2 separate regions of the Homo sapiens genome follow, and region 2 is linked to region 1. The links come from fine-mapping of genetic effects on gene expression. A gene starts in region 1. The other region holds a variant in brackets. All regions are shown on one strand. Distances are from middle to middle. Region 1 holds the start of CLYBL-AS1 (CLYBL antisense RNA 1). Region 2 holds the start of TMTC4 (transmembrane O-mannosyltransferase targeting cadherins 4).

The links.
Region 2: its variant is fine-mapped to the expression of CLYBL-AS1 in hippocampus (GTEx, PIP 0.99).

The regions. Positions count from the first base shown.
Region 1 is chr13:99,725,761-99,734,093 of GRCh38, forward strand. CLYBL-AS1 (CLYBL antisense RNA 1) reads right to left here and starts at 3,241. Exons shown (of 3, transcript NR_120383.1): 1 at 3,161-3,241; 2 at 1,470-1,732; 3 at 1-275. The region is part of intron 1 of CLYBL (citramalyl-CoA lyase); the gene reads left to right. RefSeq lists enhancers at 3,666-4,583, 4,584-5,500.
Region 2 is chr13:100,670,658-100,678,990 of GRCh38, forward strand. TMTC4 (transmembrane O-mannosyltransferase targeting cadherins 4) reads right to left here and starts at 4,138. Exons shown (of 19, transcript NM_032813.5): 1 at 4,087-4,138. RefSeq lists enhancers at 2,514-3,403, 4,729-4,808 and silencers at 3,519-3,598, 3,649-4,008, 4,039-4,538. The variant C/G (reference allele first, on the strand shown) is at 4,574.

The sequences.
Region 1 (8,333 bases):
CTGATGGACTGGAACGGCTCCCGGGGAGGCATTGTGGTGTTTGCGTAAATCCCCTTTCCTTTTTGGTTTACTCATTTGATGCAGGAGGGTCGGTTCTTGGGCTGTTGCTTTCTCTCCTGTTAATCCAGCTACTGCACATGCGCACGAAGGCAACAGGTTAAAAGTCCTAATTTAAGATAGCTTTGGGTATGGAGAGATAAAATCCCTTTTTCTCCAGTTGAAGCATCTGTTTTTCAGTTGAGTGTAGATGGGTTGATTTTCATGAATGTATACATCTAATATGTTTATGTAAACACATTAAGGCAAGATTTCAGAATTAATTTCAGAGTATGTTTTATGATAATTACTGCTATTCTGCCAAAAGTTTAATAGCCAATCATAAGAATTTTCTTAAATTATTATTTTCAAATTAATAAGGTGTTAGACTTCTCATTTGTTCTTTCTGGTACTGTTTTGAGATTAAGAACTCAAAGATGAACTCATTCATTCATCAAATATTATTTATTAAACTCTTCCTCCATGCCAGGCTCATTGTCATAATTATCATTGTAATTAGTCTGTAACTTATATTTACAATGATTATGTAAATAGCGGAAACACCTAACTATCCTGCTTCTTGGTAATCAGGTTTAACTCTCCATGGGGTCGGTGTGTTCTTTCTGAAGCATGTCTTTGAATAGATTACTCGGGCCTTCCCCTAGTTCTTGGAATGCTAACTGAAATTGTGTGATTGATAGATTTCCCCAGACTTAAAACTGGAGAGATCCATGGGGGCAGAGTGGTTCCATGGAGGCAGAGTGGTGTCATGGAGAGGACACAGGCTGTCGTCATTTACTTTTCCTGCCCTGAAAAGGGAAGAGCCAGCAGCTCAGGGGTCGGTGTGAGACTTAAACTCTGAATAATGTAAAGCGGCTGGCACAGGCCTGGCCCTCAGTGCGTCCCCCCATGAGCGCCCCTCCCCCGCCCCTTATCCCTAAGGCAGTAGTGTCTGTAGGGCCTCAGGCACCTACATTCTCATTTCCTTCATGTATGCAGAGGGCCAGGGAAGTTACCTGGTTACCACTTGCTCTGTGCCACAAAAAAGGCGTGCAAGGATGTACATCAGAACCTGGTTTTGACTGGGCACAGTGACTCACGCCTGTAATCCCATCACTTTGGGAGGCTGAGGCGGGCAGATCACCTGAGGTCAGGAGTTCGAGACCAGCCTGGACAACTTGGTGAAACCCCATCTCTACTCAAAGTTCAAAAATTAGACAGGCATGGTGTCACACGCCTGAAATCCCAACTACTCGGGAGGCTGAGGCAGGTGAATCACTTGAACCTGGGAGGCGGAGGTTGCAGTGAGCCGAGATAATGCCACTGCACTCCAGCCTGGGTGACAGAGTAAGACTTCATCTCAAAAAAAAAAAAAAACTTTGTTTCTGTGCACAATACCTCAAAGACTTGTTAGGCCTGGGGAATAGACCTGCCTCATTTGCTTGTTTGAAGCCTAATTGCAGGTATTTCTAATACTTCCTACAGTGGATTTCTCTCGTCTTCCAAATGTTGCTTTTCCACAGAATTGGCGTGGTAATTGCTGAGAAGAAAGAACTTCCTTAACTGAATCAAGCCTGCCTCCACCTCTTTTCTAGGATTGCAGGTTCCTTTTCAGATAAAGGTCTCAAAAGGGCAGGCAGGGCAGAAGGTCTTCTCATAAAATCCGAGGATTGTGGTCCTCTGGGTGCTTCATCTGCTGCAACCAAGTAGAAAAAAAGGAATAAACACAAACACATTTCACTCTGCCTCCAACAAACCTCCTTCAGGTCAGATCTAGTATCCAAGAAGTAACAAAAATAGTCCATCTAGCAAATGAGCCATTTTCTTTGAGAGACAGGCAAGCAAGACACCTGGGTTTGTCTAGATATAATTAGTTATTTCTCCCGTGGCCAGTATGGGAGTAAACACTATGCAGTAAACACCAGCTGAAGAACATTGTCCTGTCTATCTCAGGACAGGGAATGATAGATACCTTTTGGTCTCTACTTAAAGACAGTATTGCCGGGTGCGGTGGCTCATGCATGTAGTCCCAGTACTTTGAGAGGCCGAGGTGGGCGGATCACTTGAGGCCAGGAGTTTCAGACCAGCCTGGCCAACATGGTGAAATCCTGTCTCTACTAAAAATACAAAAATTAGCCAGGCATGGCGGTGGGCTTCTGTAATCCCAGCTGCTCAAGAGACTGAGGCAGGAGAATTGCTTGAACCTGGGAGGCAGAGGTTGCAGTGAGCAGAGATCATGCCACTGCATGTCAGCCTGGGCAACAGAGCAAAACTGTCTCAAAAAATAAAAATATAGACAATATTAGTATTAATATTACAGATCCCATTATATTTCTTTTCATGAGTTTTGTGAGGGTATTCCCCAAAGCTCTGTGTTTTGGTGGGGGGGATTACAGGTGTGAGCCACCATACTGGCCCCCTCCCCCAATAAATATAAACTGGGTACTTATTAATACTTAATATACATATGTTTCTTTTCTTTTCTTTTTTTTTTTTTTTTGAGATGGAGTCTCACTCTTTTGCCCAGGCTGGAGTGCAGTGGCACGATTTCGGCTCACTGCAACCTCCGTCTCCTGGGTTCAAGCGATTATCCTGCCTCAGCCTCCCGAGTAGCAGAGACTACGGGTGTGTGCCACCACATCCGGCTAATTTTTTGTATTTTTAGTAGAGATGGGGTTTCACTGTGTTAGCCAGGATGTTCTCGATCTCCTGACCTCATGATCCGCCTCCCTCGGCCTCCCAGAGTGCTGGGATTACAGGTATGAGCCAACTTCTTTTTTTTTTTTTCTTTTTAATAGAGACAGGGTCTCACTGTGTTACCCAGGCTGAAGTGCAGTGGTGCAATCACGCCTCACTGCAGCCTCAACCTCCAGGGCTCAAGCAGTCCTCGCACGTAGCTGGGACCACAGTTGTGCACCACCATGCCTGGCTACTGTGTGCTTTTTTGTTTTGTTTTGTTTTGTTTTTGTAGAGATGGAGTCTCATTATGTTGCCCAGGCTGGTCTCAAACTCCTGGGCTCAAAGAAGCCTCCCACCTCAGCCTCCCAAAGTTCTGGGATTAGAGGCATGAGCCACCATGCCCAGCCCCACCCCAGTAAATATAAACTGGGTCCTTCCTTAATACCTTAAAGACAGCAATTTTCGACATATTCAAGACAGTTGTTCCTTCTGCTTTGGAATGCTGAGAGCTTCTTTCCTCATAATTGTGTTCTAGAAGTTCTGCAGGGCCTTGCTATGGGAACCAGAGAAAGCAGAATGGCCAGGGCCATCCAATTGTCTCCTTCCCAGAGATCAGGATGAAGGGCTGTGTTAAAAGATCTCTCTCATCTTCAGCTGGAAACAAATAGTACTGAAAAGAATGATCTGGACTGTTTCTCTTGTCTTTTAAAAGTGTGAGGCCTAAAGAGGGGAGAGAGTATCTTTGTGCTGTGTTATGCCTGACACATTGTCGGTGACCAACAGATGTACTTGGCCATTTATATGGGGATAACATACATGTGATCTTAGCCAAAAGGCCCTCCAAACCTTCCTTCAGCAGCCCTTTAGATTGGGCTCCTTTGTCAGTCATCTGCTTGAGTATCAGCTATGCTGAAGGAAAAGACATAGGGAATGGTGGTTGGAGGTGGTGGCAGCCAGAGATAAATGTATCTCTGAGGCATGGTTTCATCTGGTCAGTAAGATGTGTGCCTTTGGATCTGCTTCGGGCTAAATATCTTAGGGGTTTGGTGGGCTTTAGAAGTGTGTGTAAATGGGAGGCGGGAAAGTGAGGCCGGAGACTCATCATCACTGCTCTCCACCCTCCAGAGGGGACTGCGGAAAGCGCAGCCAGCCATCGGCCTGTTGACAAGGCACTGGCAGTCACTGAAAAATTCTTTTCCTTTCTCTGTCAATTAGCAAATGATGGTCTTCTACTGATAAAGTTTAGGAATAAAGGAGAAAGAGGAAGATGGAATCCTGGACCACTTTCAGCCTGCACTTGAGTATTCCTTATGTGTTCTCCTGACTCCCTGGTGCCACTACCCCCTGCCACCGTCGGCCCTGTGGCAGTGGGGCCCTTCCCCCCGCCAGCCTCGGCACCGCTTCAGTGTGGCTGGTGCCTCCACCACCATTGGTACTGTGTCAGCATTGCTGGTGCACCTGCCACCGTCGGTCCCTCATCAGCATTGCCCATGCCCCCACCACCGTCAGTCCCTCATCAGCATTGCCGGTGCCCCCCTACCACCGTTGGTCCCACATCAGCGTGGCCGGTGCCTCCACCACCGTTGGCCCCACGTCAGCGTGGCCAGTGCTGCGACCCAGTTGCTGGCTGGAGGATGGCTGGCCACTGTTGGAGCTGCTGATCTTTCCAAGGCCTTGTCACAGTGGCCATAGATCTCAAGGTGCACCCAGGACACTCAGGAAACCAGCCTCTTGGTTAGGCAGCTGAGGCCTCACTTTTCTGCATCCATGTACTCCTTTGGTATCTGGATCTTCCTTTTAAACTTTGACTAACACGTGTGGCAGAACCAATCACCACCACAGCCTGCAAGTGCACTGAGGACCTGTCAGGCCCAGGGGAGGTGCAGCACGCTCATGGGGGCAGCCCAGCACTGCCCAGGTGGCTGGAGCGAGTCACGGGGAGAGCAGAAAGCTTTGGGCGTCCTGGCTGACTGGCCTCTTAGTGAGAATACAGAACAGCTCCTGGCAGCACTTTCCCTTCCAGCTTTCCTCAAGACAGGCCATGCCAGGCGAAGAGGAAGGGCAAGGTGGCTCCCTCCGGGTATGGAGATGGGGTGAGCCTGGGGACAGTGGAGCCTCTGAGCAGAGGACTCCAGAGGCTCAGGGAGCAGCAGAGCCGCCCAAGATGATAGACAGGAGCTGAAGGCCAGAGGGGACCACGCCTGGAGTCTTGGCGGGAGGAGCATGGACACAGGACCAGGGAGGGAGCCCCAGAGGCAGTGCCGACCATCCTGCTAAACACACGGAACGGCCTCCCCATTCTTTCCCCTAAAGAGTAGGGGCTTGGGCCAGGCACGGTGGCTCACGCCTGTAATCCTAGCACTTTGGGAGGCCGAGGCAGGTGGATCACCTGAGGTCAGGAGTTTGAGACCAGCCTGGACAACATGGTGAAACCCCTTCTCTACTAAAAATACAAAAATTAGCTGGGCGTGGTGGCAGATGCCTGTAGTCCCAGCAACTCAGGAGGCTGAGGCAGGAGAATCACTTGAGCCCCGGGGGCTGAGGTTGCTGTGAGCCGAGATCGTGCCACTGCGCTCCAGCCTGGGTGACAGAGTGAGACTCTGTTTCAAAAAAAAAAAAAAAAAAAAAAAAGGCGGGGGCTTGGAGAGGAGAGGAGGGGTCCTGGTTTTGTTGTACTTTGTTAATATAGACCAGATTTCGGCAGATTGCACTGTATAAAGAAAAATAAACATGGACAGAAAAGTTGTATGGTCAAAATTGAAGTAGCAAAGCCTTCTTTAAAAGTTGAAATTACTTTTGTTTCTTTACTAAAGCACAAAGTCTAGTTGCAGAATATATGTCTATCTTAGCCTGCTTTAAGAAAAAAAAAAAAAAGCGGCTGAGCCCAGGGGCTCATACCTGTAATCCCAGCACTTTGGGAGGCCATGGTGGGAGGATTACTTGAGGCCAGGAGTTTGAGATCAGCCTAAGTAACATAGCAAGACTCTGTCTCTACAAAAATAAATAAAAGACTGCAGCTGCTTATATTAAAAAAAAAAAAAAGGCCAAAGAATGCCTCAAAGCATTGAAATAAAACTTACTGATGGTTTCACCAGCAGAACAGAGACATTGGCCACTGTTTAAGCTGTGCTAGATGATAAAGAAGGCCATACATTAGTTTCAAAGTCAGAGTAGACAGAGGCGGAGGGTAGATAGGTGTTAGCAGGATGGCTCTCACGGACGTGCTGGGGCCACATGGACAGTGGACCCCTGGATGGGGAGGGAGGAAGGAAGGGCCTCGGACATCTCCTGATGTGAAGAATCCTGTGTTCTCAATTTTAACCTCTTTGTTTCTAGCCAAGAAGTAAACTGAATAACATACTCCACACCAGAATGGTTTCACTTAGCTTTCGTATCTCAGGAACTGGGCTTCAGTTCTGCAGTGAGAACTGTCCTTTAATTGCTTCTCCCCTGGAGGCTGATGTGGTGACATACTTTGGAGCACAGGGCATACAGGCATCCCTGCACGAACGGTACCAGGGGCTTGGGATGGCTGCAGCACATTCTGCTGGGGCTTTGTTTTCCTTGGGGCTATGTTTGTTTTTTCTTTTTCCCTTCTTTCTTACTGTTTCTTTTTTCTGGATGCATTATGTTCTTTAAAGACTAGTGATTTTCCACACCAAATTATTTTAGAAATTTCAGCATTATATGGCAGTTTTTTTTTTTTTTTTTTTTTTGAGACAGGGTCTTACCTTGTCACCTTGTCACCTATACTGGAGTGCAGTGGCACAAACACGATTCACTGCAGCCTCAACCTCCCCGGGCCCAAGCCATCAGTCTTCCACCTCAGCGTCCCCCACCAACAAGTAGCTGGGACCACAGGCACATCCCACCACACCCGGCTAAGTTTTGTATATTTCGTAGAGATGGGGTCTCAGCATGATGCCCAGGCTGGTCTCAAACTCCTAGGCTCAGGCAATCCTCCCTCCTTAGCCACTTACAGGTGTGAGCCACTGTGCCTGGCCTATTTTAAAGGTGTTTTTTCTTTCTTTGGTTTCGGAGAGAAATCAGTTTCCTGTGTATCTTAAGCTGTGTGGATAGGGGGATTGTGATAATGGGTCATTATTTTATAATTTTGCTATTTTAAATGAGTTTTAAAACCTGTAGCCAGTTTCTGATCTCAGGGAACATACCTATTAACTCAAGGTGTTACAAATATCTTGACAGCTTAAAAATTGAGTTAAGATATGAAAATAAGATATGAAAATATGAAAATACTGTGCTGTAATACAAGAGGCATTCATTACCTTTTCCCTGCCCATCAGTCTCGACAGGATAACTTTACACTTGACCCAAAGATATTTAAAAATACATCCGCTTTCTTTGAAACTTCTGTGTCAGTGTTTTTCATTTGAATGATTAACAGAAGCACATTGGTTTGTAGGTAAATAGTAAATAGGTAATTCTACTTGTTTTTCTAATTTTTAAAATGCTTTACAAATAATTATTAATGATACTGTATGATTAAGGAAAGGGAATTTGTATGAAGCTAATTTGAAGGTAATTGGCTTTTGCATTTATTTATTCATGTATATATTTAATTCGCATCTGTTATGTGTCAAGTATAGTGCAGGAGTCAGCAGAAAAAGTAATTCCTAAAATCATGGCTCTTGAAATCAGTTATTTGTCTTTGTTTTTCCTCCTCAAAGATTACTCCCTGTTCAGTCTTGTTAATGTGATCAGAGATTTATATTAACTTTTAAGATCTCATAATCCCAATAATGTAAGATATAGTAGAGATGAGTAGAGAACAGAACTTAAAAAAAAAAACAAACTGTAATTACTAGGAAATTGACTCTACCAGGGAAATTAACAGACTTGTCCAAAATTGTCCCTGTAGACAGAGAGGGCTGGTAAGGCTGGAATGAACCCGTCGTAATTTGAATGCTTAAAACTTTTTCCATTTTATTGTCAAAATTATTGCCTGAACTTCCTTTTTCTCCTCATTTGCCTATTTCCCTTGCTTTTTATCTTGTGCACCACCAGTATACAACATAGTGGTGTTTAACTACTTCCTGAAGGCATTATTAGTCATCAGGAACACCAGGTCATTATCGAAGTAGATAAATGGGCATTCCGCCCATCGACTACCCCTTGGACTAATTTGGAAAATATGGTTCCTTCCCTCAGAAGAAACAGCCCATGCTCCTCTGGACACTTATAAAATAGCCATGCGCACGTCTCTGTTCCTTCTGAACAACTGGAATTAATGTGTCCTGCTTGATGCTAAACTGGAGTTTAATTCACAATGGCAAGGACGCTTCACCTAGAATATCTGTCCATGTGAAAGGTGGGGAGCAGTGCAGCTTCCATCTCCCTGTCTGTTTTTTGGTGGGCTTTCAGCTTTTCTGTCCCATGACTGTTAGTGACTGCAGCGTAACCCCAAATCTTTCACCAGATGTTGTCTCACCATCTTAAGGAAAGAAGAAAGTTCTAATGGATGTTTTGAATGTGCTCGACTTTTATTTTGTTCAGACCCAAACTGAATGAGGCAGAGGTTAAAATCTTTTCTTGTTCCATCTGAGTAAGCACGAAAACCTATGATCCTTAATCTTTTAGAAGAAAAATAACCCTTCTCT
Region 2 (8,333 bases), 940 kb after region 1:
ACAAATCAAGGCTGGTTGCAATGGCTCACGCCTGTAATCCCAGCACTTTGGGAGGCCGAGGCCGGTGGATGGCTTGAGCCCAGAGGTTCGAGACCAGCCTGGGCAACAAGGTGAAACCCCGTGTCTACAAAAAAAAATACAAAAATTAGCTGAGTGTGGAGGCGTATGCCTGCAGTCCCAGCTACTCAGGAGACTGAGAGGTGCGAGTATTGCTTGAGCCCAGGAGTTCCAGGCTGCAGTGAGCTGAGATCACACCTCGGCTCTACAGCATGGGCAACAGAGTGAGACCCTGTCTCAAACAACAACAAAGCCCAACAAAGCCAAATACTGAATAGTTAGGAAGATACTATGATTTAACATGGGGAGAAATTTTAGAAAATTAAATGTGAAGGAAAACAAATAATTTATAGCAATTTTAAATGCACAATAGAGTCATGAGCTGACAAAAGGTCATGTAACCGGTTTTGACGTTATCTGTTTTATTGTTTCAATAGTGAATTTATTGGCTCATGCAATATATTTTTGGAGATGGCGTCTTGCTATGTTGCCCAGACTAGCTTCAACTTTTGGGCACAAGTAACCCTCCTGCCTCGGTCTCCCAAGTAGCTGGGACTATAGGAGTGTGCCACTGAGCCTGGATATTATCTGCTTCAGGCTCAAATATTTGAAAATTATTTCACAAACGTTTGTCAAGGTTCAAATGGCCTTCTAAGTAGAATACTAAATCAGGAAATACTTTGTGCTCCTAAATTAGCGACTGTACCTCAGATTGCTTAGAACATAAACGTGTTCTAAGCAATATGTTCTAAGCATAATCATGTTCCAAGCCACAGCCCCAGGATATATAAGGCAGACTGTGGACCACACCATCAACGAGATGCCCTGGTAGGAGGCCAGGTCCAGACTCTTGGGAAGTCAAGTGGATGGCTGACTCAGTGGATCTCAGATGATCTCCTCCTCTGCTCTTGCAGGGACAGCAGGAAACCTGGCCTACCTCCAACGCCCCTGCCCCTACATCATTTCCCAGTTCTGGCTGGCTCTCCCCTCCTTGCTGTGACTCCCCTGCTTCTCTATCTCAGGGGGCTCCTTCTCCTTTCTCCAAGGCCTCCCACTTCTTTGCTGCCACTGAAAATACTCACAAATGCTCTTTTCTTTGAAGGGATTTACTGTTAACGTACATAGTGGAACAGTTTGGAAAATGCCTTTCACTAGCAAACGCAAAAAAAAAAAAAAAAAAGCTACAATTTGTTAGAAAGCCAGGCAAAGTGATCAGTCTAGTCCAGTGGTTGAGACCAAAGGCTCTGGTGACGGACAAACCTGGACTTGCCGGCTGCACGACCTTGAACTGCTTAGTCTTTCTAAGAATCAATTTCCTCACTGGCACAACACAGTACCACCACCACTTTCTTCAGAAGGTGGTGGTAAGGATTAAAGGAGAAAATGTATGCAAACAACTAGTTCTCATTATTGTTAGATTTTGGAGAAATTAGCCGCTGCTTCCCAGTCCCTGACTGCCTGTCTCGGGCGCACCCATGTTGCCAGTGTTTATTCCTGCAGATGGGCTGAGCACTAGGGCCAGCAGTAGCCCATCGGGTGACCTGGTGCGACTGAGAAAGGCGGGCCCTTCTTTTGGGCAGACCCGGGGCACATGGCTTCCTTGGTCAGGTGTCTGGCACAAACTGTACAACCATGCACAGTGACCTTGTTCCCAACTCTCCTTCCTCCAACACTAAACGACTTCTGTTCCTCAATGACCTGAGCCAGGCCTGGCACTCAGTTAAAAGAAGCCCTGTCTGAGCAAGGTGGCAGAGACGGGGGACCACCCTCTCTACATCCCTTCCCCCCTTTTTTTGAACAGGGTTTCACTCTGCCACCCAGGCTGGAGTATAGTGGTATGATCATAGCTCACCACAGCTTCACCTTACTGGGCTCAAGGGACCCTTCCACCTCAGCCTCCCAAGTAGCTGGGACTATAGGCATATGCCACCATGCCTGGCTATTTTAAATATTTTTTTGTAGAGACAGGGTCTCACTATGTTGCCCAGGCTGGAATCAAACTCCTGGCTTCAAGCGATCCTCCTGCCTCAGCCTTCCAAAGCATGGGGATTACAGGTGTGAACCACCGTGCCCGGCCTCCACCATTTTTTACAGTCAGGACATGAAATAGGAAAGGATGCTCTGTTTTCTTCCAGATGGGCCCTAGGTTGAACTTTCTGGTCCCTCTTCTCCACATGATGTCCTGCCTGGGCTCCCTGGCTCCTCTGCCATAGCTGGATCGTTAGTTCACCTTATGAAGCAACAAAAAGAGAGACCCACTGTGGCCTCTGCTACAGGCCAAGCAGAGGGCACAACCCAGGAGGAATGAAGTCAGTGTTCTGCTCGCTACCTGACTCCTGCGACAGAATCAACTGGCCCCTCAACAGGGGCTGAATCTGGAACAAAGCAGACGTCCCTTTATCCTACAATTTCTCAAACTTCTCATATCGAGCCTCTGTTTTCAGGAGGTTAAAACAAATTAATCATCAGTGAGAAGGCCAAAAAGACCCCACACAGGGACCCCAGAAAAACAAATGTCATCCAGCTGTGAACCATGAGGGCCCAATGACAGCTGACACGGCAGCCTGGACTGCGGTAAACAGAATGGCGAGACCAAACCTAAATGTTTCCCCTTGGAAAAATTAGCAGCAGCCACCTACAGAAGAATATTCCCCTCCATGCATCCAGGGGCCTGCTGACCTCTGCCCAGCCTTTCTACCTCATCTGTAACATTCAATCACATAGCCAGCCATCCTATGCACGCTGAGAGGTGACAGCGCCTCTGGGAATCAGATTAGAGAACACAATCGTTTGTGACCCTGCATCCCTGGGCCTGGCAGTTTCCTGACTGATCAGACCCTGGGCCCCTCAAGGCAGGGGCGCGAGCCACCACCACCGCCCTCCTCCGTGCAGTGCTGAATACATGCTACTGAAGGCTAAGGTATCGTCCTGCTGTGACGGCCTTCCCATTTTATAATTCAGTAGCGCACGAGGGCCATGGCTGCCTATAGCAAGAATGTGTGTGGTTTGATATTCACAGTTCCACTGTCCCAGAAAGTTTCCAGTTTGCTAGCTTGTAGCCATTTCCCCTATCTAGGTGCACTGGCCGTGATTTTACCCCACTCCATCTGGGGCGCGCCCGGCGCAGACAGGACTGCAGAGAAAAGGGACAGGGAGGGGACCTAGTCAGTCCCTACTATAACTGTTTCTCAAGACATTCTCCCCATGCATTTATTTGCTCTCCCGGGGAAAGAGCGAAGTGTGGGATGACTCATAGTGGCTAGATCGTTCCTCTAACTCCTCCCTTCTTTTGTGTGTGGTTTAAAAAAAAGAAAAACACACACGCAGCCCATAGCCACAACATCAACAAGACCAGAAGCCCCGCAGAGTTCGCAGGAGGTGGGCAGTGGCTGCGCCACCTGCTCGGCTTCCCCAAACTCCGAGCCCACGCCGGGAAGCGGCGGCTCGGTGGCCCCGGGCGCCCGGGCCGGTGGCCCCGCGCTCGCGCCGCTCCGCTCCGCAGCCGAGCGTGGAGTAGCAGGCGCTCGCGGCGCGGCGGGGGAGCCGCCGCGGAACCCAGGGCAGGCGGCCAAGCGGCCCGGCTGTGTCCAGCCATCGCCTGCGCCGCGGCCAGCTGGCGGCCAGGCGCGGGGCCCCGCGGCCAGATGGCCGCTCCGGGGACGCGCCGCAGGCGCCGGGTGCGCCCGGGCCGAGGGAGCGCCGGCGCGGCTGTGCAGGCAGGGGCTGGGGGCGGCGACCTCTGCCCGGGCGGAGAAGCTCAGGGGCCCGAGCGCGGCGGGCGGGGCGCGCAGCCTCCACGCCGCGCCCTTTGTCCCATGTGCGGCTCACACAGGGGCCCGCGTCCCCCGTGACCCCGGCCCGGGCCGCAGCTCAGGTCCCGGAACCAACTCCTCCAGCAGCGCCGCTCTGGCCCGGGCCGCCGTGCGGGGCTCGGGACACGGCGGCAGCGGGGAACCCGCGCCCGCTCCGCGTCCAACTCCGCTCGCCCCGCGGCGCGCTCGGCCCTGCAGGGGCCGCCCCGCGCGTTACCTGCAAGGAGCCTGAGCCCCGGCCGCATCTCCCTCCCGGGTGCGGAAACTCTGGCGGCTCCAGGCACCCGCCCGGACCTGGCAGGGGGAGGGGCCGCCCGCCGCGCACCCGACCCCCCCCGCGCCGCGCCTCCCGCAGCTCCCCACGCGCGCGGGCGCCCCCCAGCACCAGTCTCGGCCCGCCCCCTCCGCCCGACCATTGGCTGCTGCTCCCGTCACTTTCAGGCCACAGCCAAGTCCCTCCTCAGCTCATTGGCGGACGCGCCGGTGACGTCAGGCCAGGGGGCGCTAGTCGGCGGCGAAGGAGGCGCAGGGACAGACGGACCCGGCGGGAGAGGAGGAAGCCGGGTTGTGGGCGCGGAGCTGAGGCGGAGGCGGGGCCGGGGCGGGAAGGGGCGGCCCCAGCTGGGTCGGGCGAGGCTGGCTGCGGGAAACCGAGTGAGCCCTCGCTTTTCCTCCGGGGTCCGCGCGCGGGACCCTATTTCTGG[C/G]CTGTCTCGCGCTTCGCCTGCGCGGTGGTCTCCACGCTGGGACTGCGGCGTCCTCGCAGAACAGCCAGAACTCCACTTCTTCCTGTCCGGGAGGAGTTGTTTAAAACATGCGTATCTCCACCTTCTGCTTCTTAGAACAGAACTGACTGAAGCCGTGTTCTTCCCGCCGAGACCATGCCGCCCCATCGACCCTGCTGCGGCCAGAGCCACCCAGGGCGGGCCCACTCACCGCAGGCTCGGGCCACTTGGTTCCAAACCTCCACTCCCATCCAGGGGCCCGGCACACCCACCACACTCCCACTCTCAGAGGTCTTTGCCGCCTGCTTCAGGAGAAAAGAGAAACTTCCACTTTCCACCGGCAAAACTGCACACCTGCTCCCTCCATCACCGAGCCCCCCCCCCCACCTTCTGTTTTTCCAGTATCGCAGAATCCGATCCGTTGCTCCCTCTGGACTGGAATCCGTATCCTCGGCATTTCATCATTCCAAGATTCTCTACTCCACGTACCCTTGCTGCCACCCTCTTCTACTTTCCATCGCTGAAGTTGGTGAAAGAGGCGCCTGCCCCCAGTTTTGTGGTCTCTCAACTCCACGTGTTCGTTTTCACACTCGGTGAAATTGCCTTTTTAATTGTCGCAAGTAGCATCCACATCACTAAAGTCAAAGGACACTCTCCTTTCTCGTGTTAACTGATCTGAGCAAAATTCCTTCTTTCTCCTTAAAACACGTCTTCCTGTGGCGGGGGTGCTCCACTTTCCTGTCTGTCCCCAGTCTTGGCGTGCTTGTCTACTCTGGGTGACCACCAAATAACAGAGTTTTCAAGGTCTCAGACCTTTCCTCTTACTCCACAATTTTTCCCTGAATGATTTAACCTGCTGTCAACATTTAAATCAATATATCCCAAATTTGCAACTCTAATCTTTGCTCCTCTGAGCTCCAAATCCGTTTATCTAGCTTCCTATTCAGCTACTCCTGGTAACAAGCACCTCAAATGGAACCCATCCAAAACTGAATGCGTCCTTTCCCTGCTTGCTTTCAACTCCCTGTCTCCCTGTGATAGTGAAGACACCACTATCCAGTGTTTCCCAAACTCTGCCTTCACCTCGGCATCTAACAAATCGCCAAGATTCTACTTCCTAAATAACTCTGAAGTCTGTCCACTTCCTACCATTTCCAGTATTACGTATCATAATGTGCTTACTGCACGTGCGTTTTCCCGGCCCACACTCAGTGATGTCTCGTTGGTAGACTGTAATGGGCCATGGTCGAAGTATTTACACCATGGAAATTAGCCAACATTATGAATCATGAATCAGGGATCGATTTGTTTTGCTGATTGTCTCTAGACTTCAGAAAGTGATGGGGAAGATGTTAATAATGTAGATTAAACTTAAAAATGTGTTTAGTGCTGAAACAAGATTGCAGTTTAATGAGTTTATACAAGGGTAAGAAGTAGTTTAACAGATCACATATCAGATTTAAGGACAATAAATTTGTTGGCAAAAAGTGGATCGGTATGTAATTTCACTAGTCACATCATGGTTGAGTTACAAGCATTGGATGGATTCAGATACAAGCCTTTGGCAAAAAAGAAGCAAAGCTTTCTGTGAGAATCAGTCAAGTAGATAGAACTGACAATAAAGAGTGTCTGCCTTTTACTTGTGTATTGTTTATTACACATCCTTTATATCAGAAACATTTATAACACACATATGGTTGTATATATAGGTGGAAATAAAAAGCAGATGAGATTTTAGTCAGTTTTTTTTTTTATACTTTTAAGTTCTAGGGTACATGTGCAGAACGTGCAGGTTTGTTACATAGGTATGTATGTGCCATGTTGGTTTGCTGCACCCATCAAGTTGTCATTTACATTAGGTATTTCTCCTAATGCTATCCCTCCCCCAGCACCCCACCCCCTGACAGGCCCCGGTGTGGGTGCGTGAGGTTCCCCACCCTGTGTCCATGTGTTCTCATTGTTCAAGTCCCACCTATGAGTGAGAACATGTGGTGTTTGGTTTTCTGTCCTTGTGATGCTTTGCTCAGAATGATGGTTTGCAGCTTCATCCATGTCCCTGCAAAGGACATGAACTCATCCTTTTTTATGGCTGCATAGTATTCCATGATGTATATGTGCCACAGTTTATTAATCCAGTCTATCGCTGATGGACATTTGGGTTGGTTCCAAGTCTTTGCTATTTTAAATAGTGCTGCAATAAACATACGTGTGCATGTGCCTTTATAGTAGTGTGAGTTATAATCCTTTGGGTATATACCCAGTAATGGGATCGCTGGGTCAAATGGTATTTCTAGTTCTGGATGCTTAAGGAATAGCCACACTGTCTTCCACAATGGTTGAACTAGTTTACACTCCCACCAACAGTATAAAAGCGTTCCTGTTTCTCCACATCCTCTCCAGCATCTGTTGTTTCCTTAATTTTTAATGATAGCCATTCTAACTGGCATGAGATGGTATCTTATTGTGGTTTTGATTTGCATTTCTCTGATGGCCAGTGATGATGAGCATTTTTTCATGTGTCTGTTGGCTGCATAAATGTCTTCTTTTGAGAAGTGTCTGTTCATATCCTTTGCCCACTTTTGGATGGGGTTGTTTTTTTCTTGTAAATTAAGTTCTTCGAAGATTCTGGATATTAGCCCTTTGCCAGATGGGTAGATTGCAAACATTTTCTCCCATTCTGTAGGTTGCCTGTTCACTCTGATGATAGGTTCTTTTGCTGTGCAGAAACTCTTTAGTTTAATTAGATCCCATTTGTCAATTTTGGCTTTTGTTGCCATTGCTTTTGGTGTTTTAGACATGAAGTCCTTGCCCATGCCTATGTCCTGAATGGTATTGCCTAGGTTTTCTTCCAGGGTTTTTATGGTTTTAGGTCTAACATTTAAGTCTTTAATCCATCTTGAGTTACTTTTTGTATAAGGTGTAAGGAAGGGATCCAGTTTCAGCTTTCTACATATGGCTAGCCAGTTTTCCCAGCACCATTTATTAAATAGGGAATCCTTTCCACATTGCTTGTTTTTGTCAGGTTTATCAAAGAGATGGAGACTTGCTGTGTTGCCCAGGCTGGAGTGCAATGGTGCAATCTCAGCTCACTGCAACCTCCACCTCCCAGGTTCAAGTGATTCTCCTGCCTCAGCCTCCCGAGTAGCTGGGATTACAGGCACCCACCACCATGCCCAGCTAATTTTTGTATTTTTAGTAGAGACGGGGTTTCACCAGGTTGGCCAGGCTGGTCTCGAACTCCTGACCTCAGGTGATCCACCCGCCTCGACGTCGTAAAATGGTGGGATTACAGGTGCGAGCCACCACGCCTGGCCTAGTCAGTTTTATTATTGTCAACTCTCTATAGACAATGCACACCTTATTTCCTGCCTTCAGGGTGGCTTGCCCCCACACGGCCCCTCTTGGTGGGCTCCTGCTTCCCAGTACTCTTAGATTGAAGGCCTCAATCTTTCATGATCTGCAATGCCACAGCATGATCAGGCTGCTTGCCTGCTGCTCCTGAGTCATCTCATGCCTCTCTCTCCTGCATTCCCTAGGCCCCAGCCATGTTGGCCTTCTTGCATCCTCTGGTGTGTTCTGAGCTCATTTGCATCCTGGGCTGTGCAGGTGCACCTGCAGCGCTCCCTCCTATCCTCCTCCATCACACCTGGCTACCTCCAATTTAGAGGTCTCCAACTCTCCAGGGCCGCGGATGGGTACCTGTCTATGGCTTGTTAGGAACCCGGGCAGCACAGCAGGAAGT